2 separate regions of the Homo sapiens genome follow, and region 1 is linked to region 2. The links come from fine-mapping of genetic effects on gene expression. A gene starts in region 2. The other region holds a variant in brackets. All regions are shown on one strand. Distances are between the middles of the regions. Region 1 has its middle 24 kb from the start of ELOA. Region 2 holds the start of ELOA (elongin A).

Region 1 (4,393 bases), 24 kb after region 2:
TCTACTATGTGCCACGTGCCTTGCTTGCACTGATGTGCCTGGTACATAGGCACAGTATGAACAGTAACATTTAGGCCCCTCATAAAGCCTACAGCCTGTTAGGGTCAATGAGGCTCTTAGTGTTTTTTGGGTTTTTTTTTTTTTTTTTTTTTTTTTGAGATAGAGTCTCTTGCCCAGGCTGGAGTGCAGTGGCACAATCTCGGCTCACTGCAACTTCCACCTCCCAGGTTCAAGCGATTCTCCTGTCTCAGCCTCCCGAGTAGCTGGAATTACAGATGTGTGCCACCATGCCTGGCTAATTTTTTTTCTATTTTTAGGAGAGATGGGGTTTCACCATGTTGGCCAGGCTGGTCTCGAACTCCTGACCTCAGGTGATCCACCTGCCTTGGCCTCCCAAAGTGCTGGGATTACAGGCATGAGCCACCATTCCTGGGCTGAGGCTCTTAGTGTTTTTTTTGTTTGTTTGCTTTTTTTTTTTTTTTTTTTTTTTTTTTGTGGCTCTTAGTGTTTTAAGCCTTACTTCTGGCCCCTCTCACCTCTTACTCTTTGTTCTAGTCATCATGACAGAGTTGGGATTTCCCAAACTTGCCCCATTGCAGCCTCAGGGTCTATAAATATGCCAACCCAAAATTCCAGCCCTCAGCCTCCTGGCCTCATTAAGACTCAGTTTGAGAATCACTTCCTCTGAGCAGCCTGTACCTAACCCCACCCCAGATCTGCCCCAGATTATCGTGCACCCATCACTGGAGGAGTCTCTCGTGTGGTCGTCACTGTCCATTTCTTTGTGTGATGTCCTCACTAGACTGTGAGCTCCTTGCAAGCAGGGACTGTGACTAAACCATCTCTGTATCCCTGCTGGGGGCACTAACTAGCTGGTGAACCCATAAGTACGTGGACTTGAACGGCCCAGTGGAGGGTCTGTATGAGAGGTATCCGCATAGGGCAATACACGGTGTGAGAGAAGAACTGCAGCTTCAGAAGGGCTAGGAGGCCAGGTTCTCAGCAGGAGTTTCCAGAGCACATAGCCTGTAACCACCAGGAAACAGGCAGAGATACAGAGCCTCGAAGCTGAGAAAGACAGTGCCTTACTTCTCCTTGAAGAGGGGCCTTGTGTGGTGAAAGTAACACATCTGTGTTCTAATTTGACTCCTCACCGGCTATGTGACTTTGGGTTAGACGGACCTCTAATATTTGCATGGCTGATGGCAAAAGTGTATACAGAGGCCCACATACCATTTATCTAAATATTTAAAAGTTAAAAACTAACAAACCATTAAATACAGTTTTTACTCTATCCTATCCTATTCTGTTCTCTTACTTCGATGAATATACCTTCATAATGACCTGGGGCTAGGTTTAAATTTAACATTCTCAGATTCCTAAGAGTTCTTGGGGATGTGGTGGCACAAGGAGAACTAGCCCCTAACCTACATGCTGTTCTTCCCACCTGCATTAGGCAGAATAATGTCCCCTCCCCACCCCAGGTGTCCACACCCTGATCCCAGGAACCTGTGAATATGTTATCTTACATGGCAAGGGGGAATTAAAATTGCTAATCAGGCCAAGCATGGTGGCTCACACCTGTAATCCCAGCACTTTGGGAGGCCGAGGCAGGAGGATCACTTGAACTCAGAGGTTTGAGACCAGCCTGGGCAACATTGCAAGACCTCATTTCAATTTATATTACAAATTTATTTATTTTAATACAATAAAAATTGCTAATCAGCTGACCTCAAGATAGGGAGATTATCCTGGATTATTGAGGTAGCCCAAAATAATCACAAGGGTGCTTCTAAGTGAAAGCGAGAAGCATGAGTCAGAGTCAGAGAAGATGTGATGACAGAGGCAAAGGCTGGAGTGATGGGATTGCTGGCTTTGAAGGTGGCCACCAGCCAAGGAACACAGGTGGCCTCTAGAAGCTGGAAAAGGCAAGCAAACAGATTCTCCCTGGAGCCTCAGGAAGGACACAGCCATGGCTATACCTTGATTATAGCCCAGTGAGACCCATTTTGGACCTCTGGCCTCCATAAATGTCAGATAGTAAGTTTGCGGTAATTTTTTTACAGCAGAAATAGGAAATGAATACACTGCCTTAGTCTCTGTCCTGCACCACAGGGCCTCACGTTCAGCCCAG[G/A]GGTCACACCAGCTCCTAAGTGCAAAGTCACACTCACAGACAGATGCCCCTTGGCCACCCCTTGGGCCTAGGGGTACACACACCAGTGTTCTGGGGAGGAGGGACCCAGGGAAGAGGCTCTGGAAAACAGCAGGGAAATCTGGGGTTGTGACATGTGTAGCATGGTCTAGAAAGGGGTATGGGCTTAGGGTTGGCACAGCTCCTAGGCTGCACGGCCTCCTCACCTGCTCACTTGGGGTAAATGGCTTCACCTCCCTGAGCCTCATCTGTAAAATCAACCATGTGGATCATTATTGAGCACATCATCTGAGCCAAGTGTCCTACTTAGTATCAGAGATTTGAGAATGCCTCATCCTTGTCCTCAAGGAACTCATCTCCTAGTAATTCTGACCTCACAGGGCTTCTACCCAAGAAGGGAATGGTAGGTAAAGCAGCTGACACATAGAAACCCCTCAATAAACTTTATTTTCCATTCCTTTCTACTTAACCAAATCAAGGGGCTTACCAATTAAAAATAAAAATCCCTTGCCCAAACTCTTTGATGGATTCCATCTGCTCCTAGGAGGGGCCTAAAATCCTTTGCAAGCCCAACCTCCACCCCACTCTGTGTTCCACATACAAACCTTGTAATTCCTCAACTCCACCAAAGGGGCGCTCCTGCTTCTGGCCTTCGCCTTGCTGTTCCTGCTGCCTGGAATGTCTTGTCTTCCACAAACACCCACCCCTTCTCACCAAGCTTTCTCTTTCAGGGCTTAGTTGAAATGCCATTCTCCTGGTGAAGCCCTTCTCGGTTTCAGAACCCCACTAACCTGAGCAGGTTTACCTGCCATCTTCTCTCCCAACACCAGATAGGACTCTCTGTAGCACTGACCATGATGGCTATTATATGACTACTATTTGTATTACCTTTTGTTGGTTAAATATAAAATGAATTTATTTTCATAATTTTAAATTTCATGTTCTTCAAGACAAAGTCTCAAATGTATTATTTTTGTGTTGTGGTAAAATAAATACATATATCTAACATTTAGCTATGCCATTCAGTCAGTGGCATTCTGTAGATCCACACTGCAACCATCACCAGTATCCATCTTATCCATCTCCAGGACTTTTTCCATCCCATGCTCAAACTATGCACCCAATAAACAATAACTCCCTATTTTTCCCTCCCCCAGCCCCTGGCAACCATAGTTCTATTTTTATCTCTGTGACTGTGACTACTCTAGGTACCTCACACAAGTGGAATCATAGAATATTTGTCCTGTTCTGATTGGCCTATTTCACTTAGTATAGTGTTTTCGAGGTTCACCCAAATGGTAGCACGTATCAGGATTTCATTCCTTTTTTTTTAAGGCTGAGTAATATTTCATTGTATGGACAGACCACGTTTTGTTCATCTATTCATTTGCTGATGGATATTTGGGTTGTTTCCACTTTTGGCTATTACGAATAGGGGTGCTATGAACATCAGTGTACACATATTGGTTCCTGGGCTTTCCATTCTTTTGGGAATATGCCCAGAAGTGGAATTGCTGGATCAAATGGTAACTCTATACTTAATATGTATTACTTTTTGTCCACTTTTTATTGGTTTATGCTCCCTCCCCACTTCCTCCACTGTAGTCTAGCACCATGAGGGTAGAAGCCACGTCTGTCTTCCTCTGTGTTTCATTGTGTGGTACCCTCACTAGACTGTGAGCTCCCTGCAGGCACAGATTGTGACTAAACCATCTCTATATCCCTGGTGGGGGCACTAAATAGTTGGTGAACCCATAAGTAAGTGAACTAGAGCAAAGCGCCTAAAATAAAGGCGATACATCGATGGGTCCAGCATGGGCTTGGCCCTTCAATCAACATTTGTTAAATTAATGAAACAATGGCAATTTAGCTGACTTGGGTGAAGGCTGGAAGCCTGAAGCAGATGTCACAGAAGAAAAGTGACAACAATTCCTGACGGGGATTTTCACTCCCAGAGGTCCCAAAGAGACTGACTGGCCATAGATCTGCCTGGTTTTCTCCCTTTCTTTTTCTTTCTATGACTGGCCATAGATCTGCCTGGTTTTCTCCCTTTCTTTTTCTTTCTTTCTTTTTTTTTTTTTTTTCCGAGATGGAGTCTCACTCTGTCGCCCAGGCTGGAGTGCCATGGCGTGATCTCGGCTCACTGCAACCTCTGCCTCCCGGATTCAAGAGATTCACCTGCCTCAGCCTCCTGACTGAGTAGCTGGGATTACAGGTGCACACCACCATACCCGGCTAATT
Region 2 (4,393 bases):
CATTTTAAGTTTTCCCAGATTTGTAACTAAAATGGCTTCCTGAGGAAGTGAATCTTCGAGCTAGGTATGAACGAAGAGCCTTAAAAAGTGGTCTGATGGTGAGAGGCTGTGTACGGCCTTTGGAATTGCAGAAACCCTACCTCCAACAGGCTAGAACAAGGTAAAGAGAAAGTGGCTCTTCAAGAAAAAAAACCCCAAAGAATGACGATTGGTTTTCTGAGCACTGACTTTCAGCCTGGTACCTTAGCCTTTCAGGTTAGTCCTAGGAAGCAGCAGGTGAGGAAGAGGCTCAGCAGAGCAGTTCCCCCACGGCCCTAGCCCTCCCTCCACGACTTCCTTTTCCACCAGGACTGAGTTCCAACTCCTAGAACTGCCCGCCCCGGCCAGAATGATGACGGAGAATGCCAAACACATAAGTGCTTTTTCATCGTTGTACTTCCACTTAAAAAATCCTGACAACTGAGTTCAAGACCAGCCTGGCCAAGATGGTGAAACCCTGTCTCTACTAAAAATACAAAAATTAGCCAGGCGTGGTGGCGGGCGCCTACAATACCAGCTACTCGGGAGGCTGAGGCAGACAATTGCCTGAACCCGGGAGACGGAGGTTGCAGTGAGCCGAGATCGCGCCACTGTACTCCAGCCTGGGCGACCAGAGCAAGACTCGCCTCAAAAAAAAAAAAGAAAAAAAAAAATCCTGACAACCACCAGACTGTCTCCTGGAGACCAGAGAAGTGAGTGACAGAAAGATGAAAAGGTACAAGAACGCGTTTAACTTAATATTCAGTTTGTACAATAAACAACAAAAACTAGTTAACTACAATTAAAAATGGTTGTCCATCACTCGAACAACGAGAAACGGTAGCTCTTACCTTCCTATTAATGGCCAAAAGGAAACCTAGCTGCGACTTCCAACCCCGGGCCCCCGCCTCTTTTTCAATTCCAACCTAAGTTTTCAGGAGTATGCTTAGGTGACGCGAGGCTTTATTCTGTTTTGAAAGGGATTCACTGAGAAAGCGAAAGGTCCACGCTCTGATATCCAGCCGGAGAGTAGTAACCGCGTCTCCGAGAGGCGCGGACCAGACCGCGAGTCCAGGCTCCGCAGCGTTCGGGCGCCCGTCTTCTCCTCCCAGCGAACACGCACCCGCTGGGGAGTCCGCGCCGCTCCGCGGGGAGCCGGGCACCAGCGCAGGCACCGGGAGGCCAACGAGGCGGCGGCCAGCGCCCTCCCGCCCCGGGCACGCTCTCCCGCAGGAAACAGCTGGCTCGGGACGCCACGGAGCGCCTCTGGGAGGAAGCGCTAGGCACGCGGTGTCCGCACCGGGCGCGCCCCCATCCCGGGCCCGTGAGGGAGGGGGAGCGGCCGGGGCCCCGCGTCCCGACGCCCGACGCACGGGGTCCCAACGCGCGGGCAGCGGTCAATGGCCGCGAACTTCACGACCCCAGCCCCGCGGGGCCTGGCTCAGGGTCCCAGCCCCCGAACCCCGCCACGCTCGGGCCGCGACCGTTACGGGGCCCTCACCGACCCAACGCCCATCCCGCTACGCGCCGCCCCCTCGCTTACCTTCTTAGGGTCCGGGTTCGCGGCCAGGCGCGCCTGCAGCTTCTCCACAACTTGGAGCGCCGACTCCGCCGCCATCGCTGTCACTGGCGCGGCCTCCTCGCCGGAACTGGGCTCGCGTCGCGTCCTCGGGCCGCAGCTCCGCCCTCCGTGCATCCCCGGCGGAGACGGAAGCGCGCCTGGCCCCTTCCGGGCCTCGGCTGGGGTGTGTGGGGGGCGGTGGGCTGCAGGCTCCGCCCCCAGGGCCCGCTCCCCAGCGCCCACCCGGCGGCCGCGCACTCCTCGCGCCCCTGGCCCAAGTGTGCGCGCTGGGGGCTGGGGGCTGCTCGGGCCGTACGCGCCTCCGCCGCCGGCACCCCCGCTCCCTGTGCTCGCGTGCTGAGCCCAAGCCTGGAAGACCTCTCCAGGGTCTACTTCAAGACGGAATGAGGCCACCGCGCCAGACCCTGGCCTTATAAATGCCAACGCTTTCTCCCGCCTGGGGCTTAGCCACACCCTAATCAACACCTTGTCAGGGGTCCCGGGCTGGTGCCCGTCCTAGGAGTCCGCAGGCACCCGCGGTAGCAGCCACCCTAGGCTGAGCACACGATGCGTCAGTAGTTAGACTATCTTTTCCAGCCTCAGTACAACCTGATGAAACGAGTTGTATGATCTTCATTTTACAGATGAGGAAACTGAGGTTCAGGGAGACCAAATTAACTTGCAGATGGCCGCAGGACAGGAAAGAACTGAAAATGGAACCTGAATCTAAGATGTCTAGGACCATTGTGAGCGCACATTTCTGAACAGGTCGAGGAATTGAGGCCCAGAGAAAGGGATTTTTCAAAATCCAAACAGCTTAGTTCCTTCCATGAGGCAATAATAGCCCATGTGTCTTGTTTTCCCCACAAACAGTGTCTGGCACATAGGCACTAAATAAATACTTATTGCATGAATGTATAGATAGATAGATGTTTCCTCTGATGACTTGCCAATGAGCCGTATGGCTTGATTAGAAGAGCCCAAGATATTATTCTTCAGGCCGTCTACTCTCATCCTAAAAGCACTAAGTTTTACCATTACTAATACTACTACTAAAAAGAGCAACTAAATAGTTGCAAACTCACTTAAAGTACCAGCACTGATTACATCTCATTTGATCACATCAAAGCAGAACCTAATCAGATCTTCAGCAGCAAATTGGCAATGCACCTAGCCTGATCTCTCCCTCAAAGCAGGAAAGCCCAGAGATTCTTCCAGATTCTAGCTCTGGAAGAAAGAAAAACATCTTAAACACAAGTTGTTTCTTCAAATGAGCATTCATTCACTCACTATGCTGAAAAGCCCTCTCTACCATGTCCCTACTCCTCCATTTGGCGCCCCTCCCCCAGTTCCCTAAGCAACTGACCACCTTTTCAGGGTGTAAATGGTCAGTTTATTTATCTGTCTTGCCACTGGGCTGTTTATTTATCAAGTACAGTAACCGACCTGTCCAACTTTGAATCTCTGCCACCTAGCATCATCTAGACCTTATAATCAGCATTGGATATAAAGTCCATACAAGACTAATGACCATCCACTTGGTACCCTAAGGCTCAACTGAGGGATGTTGTAGAAAAGGCATTGAACTGGGTGTGAGAAAACTTCGATTCTAGTCCCAGCAGTAGTGTCTCCCTCCTCTGCGTAGCAAATACTTTTACATTTTATATTCCTTCCATTTTGAAAATGTACCACTGGTGTAATGGAATACAGACTGATTCTTGAAGCAGAATTGCTGAGTAATTGGCCTGGCACATACTCGGGACACATGAAACATTCTGCAGATGTTATCCAGAGAGAGCTCAATAACCAAAATGAAAAGAAACAATGAGGTTGGGCACAGTGGCTCATGCCTGTAATCCCAGCACTTTGGGGGTCAAGACGGGAGGACTGCTTGAGCCCAGGAGTTTGAGACCAGCCTGGGTAACGTAGTAAGACCCAGCCTCTACAAAAAATACAAAAATTTTAAAATTAGCCAGGCATGGTGGTGCGTGCCTGTGGTCCCAGCTACTTGGGAGACTGAGTTAGGAGAACCATTTGAGCCCAGGAGATCAAGACTGCAGTGAGCCATGATCGCACCACTGCTCCAGCCTGGGCAACAGAAAAAACAAAACCAAAAAAAAACAGAAAGAAACAACGAATGCTTCTGGGGGATCCTGGAGTGGGTGTGCTGCTCCCAGACAGCCACCCCTATGTCAGACTGAGTCAGGCTTACCTGCAAAGTACTCTTACATTTGGATATATGACTTTTTTTTTTTTTTTTTTTTGAGACAGAGTCTCACTCTGTTACCCAGGCTGGAGTGCAATGGCGAGATCTGGGCTCACTGCAACCTCTGCCTCCCAGGTTCAAGCAATTCTTCTGCCTCAGCCTCCCGAGTAGCTGAGACTACAGGCATGCGCCACTACGCTCGGCTAATTTTTGTATTTCTAGTAGAGACGGGGTTTCACCATATTGGCCAGGCTGGTCTCGAACTGTTGACCTCAAGTGATCCACCCGCCTCAGCCTCCCAAAGTGCTGCGATTACAGGCATGAGCCACCACGCCTGGTCTGGATATATGACTTCTAGGATGAGCAGCTAATTATACATGTGTAATTCTCTGATTTTTTAAAAAAACTTTTCAACCACTTCTAAAATTGGTACTCTGTATGTATTCACTGGGGGATTACCATTGTAACCCTTGGTTTACACACGAGTGTTCAACACAGGAATGAGATCCCTAAGGTCAGAGGCTATTTACCCATCTTCAATCAGCAACATTTAGCACATAGGTGAGATTCAGTAAGTTTCTTGAAAACTGAAATAATTATTATTAAAT

The links. PIP is the estimated chance that this variant, and not a neighbour inherited with it, causes the effect.
Region 1: its variant is fine-mapped to the expression of ELOA in whole blood (INTERVAL, PIP above 0.99).

What each region holds. Positions count from the first base shown.
Region 1 is chr1:23,717,072-23,721,464 of GRCh38, reverse strand. No RefSeq gene overlaps it. Among named protein-coding and RNA genes, the nearest start is that of ELOA, 24 kb to the left of the region's middle. The variant G/A (reference allele first, on the strand shown) is at 2,135.
Region 2 is chr1:23,740,747-23,745,139 of GRCh38, reverse strand. It overlaps ELOA (elongin A), which reads right to left and starts at 1,669. Exons shown (of 11, transcript NM_003198.3): 1 at 1,562-1,669. The coding sequence starts at 1,636. RefSeq lists silencers at 1,008-1,487, 1,638-1,867.